Linked DNA regions of Homo sapiens. The protein of the gene in region 2 purifies or fractionates together with the protein of the main gene of each other region. This does not show direct contact. Each region holds a gene or a part of one and is shown on either strand. Other genes may lie near its edges.

Evidence for each region.
Region 1: the proteins of EXOC1 (region 2) and GOLGA5 purify together in Homo sapiens (affinity purification with mass spectrometry; 2 studies listed by BioGRID and IntAct, with this or other methods). This does not show direct contact.
Region 3: the proteins of EXOC1 (region 2) and GIT2 purify together in Homo sapiens (affinity purification with mass spectrometry; 2 studies listed by BioGRID and IntAct, with this or other methods). This does not show direct contact.

What each region holds. Positions count from the first base shown.
Region 1 is NC_000014.9:92,797,305-92,800,804, reverse strand, and holds part of GOLGA5 (golgin subfamily A member 5), read right to left. Parts: intron 3,398-3,500; 5' UTR 3,368-3,397; coding exon 2,824-3,367; intron 1-2,823. UniProt on the Homo sapiens protein: Involved in maintaining Golgi structure. Stimulates the formation of Golgi stacks and ribbons. Involved in intra-Golgi retrograde transport.
Region 2 is NC_000004.12:55,901,947-55,905,648, forward strand, and holds the end of EXOC1 (exocyst complex component 1), read left to right. Parts: intron 1-397; coding exon 398-592; intron 593-2,396; coding exon 2,397-2,549; 3' UTR 2,550-3,140; downstream 3,141-3,702.
Region 3 is NC_000012.12:109,944,295-109,948,026, forward strand, and holds part of GIT2 (ARF GTPase-activating protein GIT2), read right to left. Parts: exon of another isoform or gene 3,211-3,732; coding exon 2,962-3,210; intron 1,056-2,961; coding exon 966-1,055; intron 1-965. UniProt on the Homo sapiens protein: GTPase-activating protein for ADP ribosylation factor family members, including ARF1.

The DNA.
Region 1 (3,500 bases), on a different chromosome or scaffold from region 2:
AGCTATGTCAACTCTTGACTTAAAGATCTCTACTAGCATCACACTGGCTATGGCAGCCACTTTCAACTTTTATTGGCTAAGAACCACCCACAGAACAACAACAACAAAATCAGATGCCCTGGCTCCATCCCCAGAAAATAACGATTCAGGAAGCCTGGGAAGGCACTCAATAATTCATTTTTAAATTAACAACACACAAGCGATTCTAAAGCCTGTTGTTCAGGAATCAATCTTTAACAATGATTATAGAAGTAATGGGTTTAATTGCATAAACAGTATGACACAAGGGCCTTCACAAACAGGTCCCAACTTTGTTTGCTAGCTACATTTTCTTCATCACCCTCCAACTCACTCAGTGTTTCCAACTTTGTTACAATGTTTTCTACTCTACTAGCCTCTTAGAGTCTGTTCTCTCTGCATGGAATGCTGTCTCTAACTTTTTACCTGGCAAACTCCTGTTCATTCTTTAAGACCCAGCTAAAAATACAGACCCTCTGTGAATCCTTTCTGAATACCCTAGGCAATTAGTTACTTCCTCCTTCATACTTCCACAACACTCTGACCATACTTAATTGCTACATTTACTAGACCACAAGTAAATTATCTGTTTACATGTCTAGCTCACCCACTGGACACTTCCATATCCTTGCACCTAGTAGGTTCTTTGTGTAATTAATTGAAAGATAGCTGAGAAGAAATTTTGGAATATGTGAACATATTAATCAACTGCTACTGCCTGATCCTATTTTCACAACCCAAAACGTCTTCTTCTATACAAGTTTTTGTCTTGAAAATACAAGAAAGATTTTATTCACTAACAGCCAAGACAATGAAAGAAGCTATAACATCCAAGAACATGACAATCTCCCATCAATAATCAACTCTATAAAGAATCCCTGGCCAGGTGTGGTGGCTCACGCCTGTAATCTCAGCACTTTGGGAGGCCAAGGTGGGCAGATGACTTGAGGTCCGGAGTTCAAGACCAGCCTGGCCAACGTGATGAAACCCTATCTCTACCAAAAAATACAAAAATTAGCCAAGGGTGGTGGTGCACACCTATAGTCCCAGCTACTCGGGAGGCTGAAATGGAGAATCGCTTGAACCCAGGAGGTGGAGGTTGCAGTGAGCTAAGATCGCGTCACTGCACTCCAGCCTGGGCGACAAAGCGAGACTCCGTCTCACAAAAAAATAAATAAATAAATAAATAAAAACATTAAAAAAGGCCAGGCACAGTGGCTCACGCCTGTAATCCCAGCACTTTGGGAGGCCGAGGCGGGCGGATCACAAGGTCAGGAGATCAAGAGCCTCCTGGCTAACAGTGAAACCCTGTCTCTACTAAAAATACAAAAAAAAAAAAAAAATTAGCCAGGCGTGATGGCAGGCGCCTGTAGTCCCAGCTACTTGGGAGGCTGAGGCAGGAGAATGGCATGAACCCAGGAGGTGGAGCTTGCAGTGAGCCAAGATCAGGCCACTGCACTCCAGCCTGGGTGACAGAGTGAGACTCCGTCTCAAAAAAGAAAAAAAAAAAAAAATCCCTATGGCCAGGCCACGGTAGATCATGCCCATAATCCCAATGCTGTGGGAGGTCAAAGTAGGAGGATCACTTGAGCTCAAGACCAGCCAGAGCAACACAGTGAGACACTGTTTCTATTAAAAATAATTTTTTAAAATTAGCTGGGCACAGTGGTGTGCACCTATAGTTCCAGCTACTCAGGAGGCTGAGGCAGGAGGATCGCTTGAGCCTGGGGAGGTCAAAGGTAGTGCGAGCTGTGATAGCATCACGGCACTTAAGCCTCGGCGATAGAGCAAGACCCTGTCTCAAAACAACAAAAGAATCCCTGCAAGAACCTACTATCAAGTTTTTTGCCTTTTTTCTATTTTTATCTTTGGAGACAGCGTCTCATTCTACGGCCCAGGCTGGAGTGTAGTGGTACAATCTCGGCTCACTGCAACCTCGACCTCCTGAGCTCAATCAATTCTCCCGCCTCAGCCTCCCAAGTAGCTGAGACTACAGGCATGCACCACTGTGCCTGGCTAATTTTTGTATTTTTTGTAGAGACAAAGTTTTGCTATGTTGTTTAGGCTGGTCTCAAACTCCTGGGCACGAGTGCTCTGCCTGCCTCAGCGTTCCAAAGTGCTCGGATTACAGGTGTAAGCCACCACGCCCAGCCTATAGCTATTTTAAAACAGTTAGTAGGTACTTGAATTAGCCACATTTACCACGTTAATCTCATTTCACAAGAAAGAAGGTGTACTTGTAGAGGTAATCTCAGAGGGAATTAAACAATTGAAAACAAGAGTTCTAAGCTCTTGCTTCACTACTAGGTCAATGCCTTCAACTCTTCAACTTGGATCAAAGTTCAGTCTCTCAGCTTTATTTGTGGAGGATGTGGGGGGAAAAACACACAAAAAACACAACCCAGAAAATACGTGAAGTACAGCCTCCTGTCATTTTTATAATCCTAGTAACAAAAAGATATCAACTGGGATAGTCCCCGATCCAAACTGACATGTTTTCTTTCAGATTTCAAAATTTTCTTTTTTTAATCTTAAAATGTCTTAGAGAAACAAATTTGAAATACTTTGTTAGATGCTGAGTGGGTGAAGTTGCCCTCCAGACAACATGAAGTCCCTGCTACAACTGTCTATTGACTAATAGTAGTCAATGATGTCTCCCTTGTTTACACCACACATTTGCAGAGAGTCTGCCCTTACACCAGTGGAGACAGATTCCATAACAGTAGATGAGAAACACCATCGGATCATATGATGACACATTCAATTTGCTTAACTCTAAAAGAAATAAGAGGACTGATTAACTACCGTGGGTTTGGCTCCCAAAAGAATTTTCTTCAATGGTTTTGATGGTGGTTACACTGGGGTTCACAGAACTGACACTTGATGTCTGAGAGCTCTGAAAGACAGGTGTCTTGCCTTTTTCCTTTCTGATTTCCACCCTCCCGGTAGGCTCCTTCTGTGAACTATTAAGAAAATCAAACAGCAGCTCATCATCAGGTTCTGACTTTTTTCTTCGCACAAAATGGGATGAAGGCCTAGGAACAGATGCATTTTCAACAGGATGAGAGGCCTCTACTGGTGTCCGAGATCCTACTTTCACATTTGCAGTGCCAGCTAAGATGGTGGCTTTTTGATTTCGAATGTTATCAGCTGCTGATGAAATATACGTAGATTTAGGTCCAGTCTGATATATCAAATCTGTATTTTGCTGGTGAAGTTCAGTATAGTCAGTATTTTTGCTATATATGTTGCTGGCATTGTCTTTCCTACTGAGAGCTGTTGCAGCCCCTTGATCAACTCGGTTTAAAAGATCTTCTGCCTTTCCAGCAAGATCAACAAACCAAGACATGATGGCAGCAGGATAATCCTATTGGCAAACCTGTAAAAAGGACATAAAATGATCAGTGTGGCATAGTGGCAGAGTATGATAAATGGTTAAGACCAGACTCTGGAGTCAGGCAATCCTGGGTTGAAATCCTAAC
Region 2 (3,702 bases):
GTCTCACTAGATTTGCCAAGTCCAAAAAAAGAAGGGGGAGTGGGATGTTAAATATCTAGTACTAGAGGAATGAATAATAATTGTGGTTCAGTCATTGTGTGAAATATTATGCAGCCATTAAAATTTATATTTAGGAAAAAACAATATTAAATGTAAAGTGGGACATGAAATTTTAATCTCCTGTATGTATTCACACATCAAAAGATTACAAGGAACTCTACAATATTAACAATGTTCATCTCAGAAGTATGTTAATAAGTGATTGTTATTTTATTGTTTATACTTTCACACACTGATTTTTGCATGGTGATTATACACTACTTTGTAATCAGATTTTTTTAATGTAAATAATAATAAATGCAGGTCTTAGCCATTGTTTCTTTTCATTTCCTTGAAGCATTTCTTTGAAGGTGTTGAAGCTCGCGTGGCACAGGGCATAAGGGAGGAGGAAGTAAGTTACCAACTTGCATTTAACAAACAAGAACTTCGTAAAGTCATTAAGGAGTACCCTGGAAAGGAAGTAAAAAAAGGTCTAGATAACCTCTACAAGAAAGTTGATAAACATTTATGTGAAGAAGAGAACTTACTTCAGGTATGCTTACTTCTTTTGACCATCTGACTTAAAGATCCTTACATATATTGCTTTTCTTTAAATAATTTTCTAGAAATGCTACAGATCTAGAGCAGGAGGAGAGTTCCATTAGAGTACAGACCAGATTAATGAATTGTGAGGAAGAAAGGAATACTGTTTATATAAGCATATATGGCTATTTCTGCTTATTTCGTATTTCTGCTATATTATGGTGAGGCATTAAGTTTGTTTTTCTTTGGTTGGTTGGTTGGTTGGTTGGTTGGTTGGTTGAGTGGTTGGAATTAGAGATGGGTTCATAATCTGGCTCCAGATTAAGCTGTGTGACTTTGGGAAGTTACTTAACCTCTCTGAGCCTTAGTTTCCTTATTTGATAAGTGGAAACGATACATCTCTTGTACAGTAGCCACTGTATTGGGCAACATAGCAAGACCTTGTCTCTACTAAAAATTAAAAAAATTAGCTGGGCATGGTGGCACGTGCCTGTAGTCCCAGCTACTCGGGAAGCTGAGGCAGGAGGATCACTTGAGCCCAGGAGATTGAGGCTCCAGTGAACTATGATCCTACCACTGCACTCCAGCCTACGCAACAGAGTGAGGCCGTGTCTCAATTAAAAAAAAAAAAAAAAAGAAAGAAAGAAAGAAAAAGAAAGAAAGAGAAAGAAAGAAAATCAGCTTAGAGAGGTGGAGTAATAGGACCAAGCTCTCTTAACTAATGGGTAGTGGAGCCAGATTTAAAGTCCAAATTAGGCCATTATTCTTTATAAACCATATTGAAAGGCCCAGATATGAGTGAGAGTAATTCTGATTTCAACATCATGGAAGACTTCCTGAGGGATATTGCATTGTTTGTTTTAACCTCTGAAAGTCAGATGTACTTGAACAGGCAAAGTGGGGATGGAGGGAGTAGCATTCTAGAAAGAAATAATATGAGCTAAACGATGAAAAGTAAAAAGCATAACACTGCTTAGGGAATAGCGATTGGTCTTAAGTTGGCAGGAATTTAGGATTTATGAGATTTAGGATTTACAAGAAAAAATCTTGGAAGAATACATTCCCTCAGCTGTCAAATAGGGAAGATGATCATAATACCCACCCTCACCAGGTCATCATGAGACTTAATACTATAATATATTCATAAAGTGCTTTGTACTGTGCTGATAAAGAGTAAGCTTCAATTAATGTAATCTATTTAAGCCATTATGTCAATGTGTGTATCACATTGTGTCTTGGTAATTGTCTACATATTAGCCTCCACTGTTAGATTATAAATCACATGATTGCAGATAATGGGTCTGAGTCATTTTGCTGTCCTCCAAGGCATCAAGCAAGGTTTTGCATCAACAATTTTAGATAAAGAAAACTTTAAATGTTATAGGAAATGAAATTAAAGCATTACATTTTATGTAATCACTAGTCTTAGTTCTATACATAATTGTGCATATCCACATCTGTGTTGCATATTGGAGTATATAAGATAATAGCTAAAATGTCATGAGTGCTTACTTGTGTCAAACGCAGTTTGAAGCACTTTATGTACATTTCTTATTTAATTCTCACAGCATTATGAGGAAGGTCTTATTATTATCTTGGTTTATAGATGAGGAACTTGAGGCATAGAGCAGTGATGTCATGTACTGAAGGTTACAAATCTTGTAGGTAAAAGTGACTGGGATTCTGGTTTCAGAATGCATGTTCCTAGCTACTATACTACCCAAATTCTTAGAATATGCCTTGGCATTATTTCTGCATACTAGATTACATATTATTTCCATTCATAGCCTAATGACTTTTTTTTTTAATAATAGGTGGTGTGGCACTCCATGCAAGATGAATTTATACGCCAGTATAAGCACTTTGAAGGTTTGATAGCTCGCTGTTATCCTGGATCTGGTGTTACAATGGAATTCACTATTCAGGACATTCTGGATTATTGTTCCAGCATTGCACAGTCCCACTAAACCTTGTGAAAGAAGAAAAGATAACTGAATGAAGCATTTGAGTATAACAGACACTATACCAAAATACCAAGCAACTGTTTTGAGAACCCAGACTTAAAATTTTATGTATTATTAAATGTTAGATAAATGGGTAGTACCATACTACAAATATTTAAATGCAAAATTACCAACCTATATAGCAGTTTTATTTGCCCTATAGGTTGCATACTAACTTAAGCATTCATGTCACCATAAAATGCCTTTAGCATTTCTCAATGACTGGATGGGAAATTTTCCTTTATTGCCTAGCTGCTTGTGTTTGAGTGGTTGTCCTATGAGCAATGCATTTGGAGTTCTTCAGCTTTCACTACTTCTCTGTTGCTTGCTAATCATGTAACTACTAAAATACTGTACAAAATTGTTTTTTCACACTAACAAATGTGTATATGGAGAAGAGGGCTCATGTGATGATCATTTGTGAACTTAGATTTTTGAGGATTATGTGACTAGTAATAAATGTGAAATAAATTTTCAAAAAAGTTGACATTTGATAATATTTTTAGGTCTATCATATGCTGTCTTCTGTATTAAAGCAAGTTCTTACAAAATCCATATACAAAAATTAATTGCAAGTTTATATACCACAAAACACTTAAAAGTTTAATAATAAGTAAAGTAAGCCGGGTGCAGTGGTTCATGCCTGTAATTCCAGCACTCTAGGAGGCCAAGGAGGGAGGACTGATTGAGGCCAGGAATTTGAGACTAGTCTGGGCGACACAGTGAGACCCTGTCTCCATAGAAGAACAATTTTTTGTGGTGGCACATGCCTATAATCTAAGCCACTTGAGAAGCTGAGGCAGGAGGATTGCCCCAGCCCAAGAGTTTGAGTGAGTTGTGATTGTGCCACTGTACTCCATCCTGGGCAACATAGCAAGATATTGTCACTTGAAAAAAAAATAAGAAAAATAATAATATTGAAGATGTTTAGTATTTAGGACTAACTCTAACAAAAGATGTGCTATATCCTGAATTGTGGCCCTACTAACATTTTATGTTGATGCCCTAACCCCCCATGTGGCTGTATTGGAGATAGGGTCTTTAAGGAGACGATTAAGTTTAAATGAGGTCAGAAGAGTAGGAACCCTGATCCAATAGACTCAATGCCCTTGTAAGA
Region 3 (3,732 bases), on a different chromosome or scaffold from region 2:
CCCAGTGCAAACCCCACCTTGCCTGTAAAGGTGGTCCCTTACCCACAGCCACCTTCCTCCTCTTACCTTACATTACCCTTCCATTAAAAAAGAGATGGAGCCAGAACTGGGACGTGGATTTCAAAGCCTATGCCCTTTCCACGGCTTTCCCAGGTTGTGGTCATGTACCACTCTTTATGCATGAAAGTATTTTTTAATTGACAGTGCCTTTGGGAGCAGGGGCTGTGCCAGCTAAGTCCTTAGGACCCTTTCATTGACTTACCCAAACGCTGTGTATGGAGGAGGTGCTTAATACTTACTGCCTGACTACTCTAAAAGAGGCTTACCTGAATCATGCACTGCTATTGAGACCATAAATTATACACCAGTAGGTGAGGTTTAACCAACCCGTACAAGTGAACAGCTTTAGGTTAACAGCTGCTTGCATAGCTCCAATGCCACAAGGTGTTACAATTCTGATTCAAGATGCAGGGACTTGTAAACCTTGGTTTGTCAGCACTTGTGGTGCTGACATAAAATGTGTCACAGGTTAAAAAAAAAAAAAAAGGCATGACATTTTAGTACTTCAGCGAGTCCACATACAGCAGTTTCAATCTGACAACTGTAGCCCTGAACAAATTGAACAAATTTGGCCTATTATAATATCTAACCAGCAGCCAGCTAATTTTCTCGTTGTTTAAAAAAACAGTTTGCTCAGAATAAATGCTGTAGGGTGATTTGCAAACTTTGTTAAATATGACGTGAACATGAGCAGTATGGGGTTAGAGAAAGGGAGGCGCCCTCGATGGGTGAGCGTGCATGTGGACGAGTGTGAGCCTGATGCACTGTGAGAAACCAGGAGGAAGTGCTGCCTCATGCAGGACGGAAGGGCAGTTAGCAGGGACAGGAGGGCCAGAGCCCAAGCACAAAGCGCCCAGGAGCACGGCCCCTCCTCCAGAGAGCAGACCATTCAGAATGTACTTAACCCTTCGGGCGCTTTCGTCCCTCGACCAGGAAAGTGTGGAGGGGAAGGAAGGCAGAGATGAAGAGGAGGTCACAAGTGCACTCCTCCCGATCTGGAATGGGAAAGAGAAACACACTCGGGAAAATACAAAACAAACCAAAAACCTACCACCTTGCCAGCTTCAGTAAAAGAATCCTGGAACACCACACATTATGTGACGTGAGTGCTGCAATCTCAGTGGCCACCAGTGACAGGACCCCAGAGATGCTTAAACCCTTGGTGAAACACCTCCTGGAAATTACTCTGAATTTAATAAGGCTGCTTTTCCATAAGGGAAATACCTAACATAATTTGTCAAACTTGTCAATAATTTTTTAATGGATACTATGAAATGCATATTTGTTTTTCAATCAGGACTGATGTGAAATGAGAAACTATAAAAATGATTCTAAGTTGCTATACACTATCAATCTAATTTTTAGTACAATTACAGTGCCTTCCTGATATATCTTTATATTCTAATTTTTTCTAAAATAAGAAAGTACACTGAAAAATAACAAAGTTGCTTTTCCTAAATTTTGTCTTCAGCTATACAAAAATAAGATTCTTAACTTAGGGTGGGCATGGTAGCTCACACCTGTAATCCTAGCACTTTGGGAGGCTGAGGCGGGCGGATTGCCTGAGCTCAGGAGTTTGAGACCAGCCTGGGCAACATGATGAAACCCCGTCTCTACTAAAACAAAAAAATTAGCCAGGCACAGGACCATGTGCCTGTAGTCCCAGCTACTCAGGAGGCTGAGGCAGGAGAACTGCTTGAACCCAGGAGGTAAAGGTTGCAGTGAGCTGAGATCACACCACTGCACTCCAGCCTGGGTGACAGAGCGAGACTCCATCTCAAAAAAAAAAGATTCTTAACTTAGTTCAGTGGCATTCCCATTACATCAAATGTATCAAATCAATTGCCTTAGAATGTTAAACCCAAATATCTTAAAAAGAATCTGAGATAACAGACTCCCAATTATAGTAAAACAATATTGTAATTTTACCACACTGAAAATTGACAAAATTAAACTAGGGTTTAATTCACGAAACCATGTCCTTGCTTTGCATCTACCTTGAGAATTTTTTTGGAAACTCCCATAAAATTTGACTGAAGAAATAATAAACTTTGACACTCAAAAAGACAAATACTACTCTCTGAAAAAGCATCCCATGAAAAAGTTTAAATGTAACATCTTGGCAAAACACATATTTTTATAATAAAGTAATCCAGAAGAAATATATTTGAAAACCTTATAACACAGTATGTATCCCAATGCAAAATAAGATTGTAAGAACCCTGCTGCAGAACACAATCTCTGGAATTCAGCGCTTCTAAGACTGATGTAGAGTATTACATTTCCTTTTCTGAGACAACAAAGCCACACTTCCCCCACCACGGTGGGAGGAGCAGGATGCAGAAGCGAACCTAGCAGGCACACTGAGCACACATGGAGAGGCTGCGGAAGCCTGGAGCCTTCCAGCCTTGCCTGGGTACCTGGGCCACAGACTCAAGGCCACCTGCTTGAGGAGGAGCTGAAAAGACGTCTTGGATTCTAAGGGCTCCAGTACTTAAAGGGGCACATCCCTGTCTAGCTCCAAGAAGGCAACACTTCCTTCTGAGAGTGAACTTTATGATTTATTTTTGTTTTTGGAAGTAGAGAAGGAAGGAAGCTTTACCAAAAAAAGTTCCAACACTGGCTGGTTGAGAAATAATCATGGATGTGGGGGAGAAAAAAGCAGCAGTTCGGGCAAGAGCCAGAATCCCCAACTTGGTTAGGAAACCATCAGCCCATGGCCCTGTGTGCTTGTGGGAATATCGCAAGCATCTGTGGACATGTTAATACAGCAAACACAATGGTAACTCTCTTAGTCCAATTTGGCAAAGCAGAGCTGTGGGGACCTGTAGGTTCAGAAGAGGGAACAGAGTAGACAGGCTGCATAGAGTGAACAGCAGAAGCGCCAGTGGTGTTACTTACGTGCGCGGGGAAGGGCTGGAGTCTCATCCTGCTCTCTTCGGGGCGGCTCGCTTCTCCCATTGGGAGATATGGTTTCTGACCTGATCCGGTCTCGTACATGGACATGGGCCTACTGCCCCGGGCAGACGGACGTCTCTTTAAGGAAGAGTGGTTGGAAGTGTCTGTGTACTCAGAACCAGTTTGCACCTGATATACATTGGTTGTGGCCTGTTTCCTGAGGTTCGAATTTTCACTCTGGAGTGTTTGAAGCTGAAAGAAATGTTTGGCAGTGGGACTGTGTTTTTTTACAGCAAGCAGAAAAAGCAAACACCAAGTAAATGAATACAACTACCAGTTTTAAACAATAAGGACAGTAACAGCTAGCCGGGCTGAAAGTAAAAAGCCAATACAAACAAGGACCCTTTCTTCTGGATTGGGTGAAACACAATCAACTCCCTTCATCACGTAAGCAAATTAAATAGCTTCATTTCTGAATGTGGAAAAGTTGTGGTTTGGACTTCCTCAAAACAAAATGTCTAACCACTTTAAAATTTGTCATGGTGGGGCTGGGAAATGTTTGCAGGCAAGCTGTACACTGGATTATTACTAAGGCTGTTTCAAGCAAGAGTTCGAGATCATTAAAACATCATTTAGGTAACTTGCTTTTCAAATGAGCCCTGAGCAATTTGTAAAGGCCAAAAATGACAGCAGACACCATGGAAGCAGCACAAAGATGACTAGGGTTGCTTTGCAAAGCAAGAAAGACAGAAGTTCAGCTTGTGAAAAATCAGA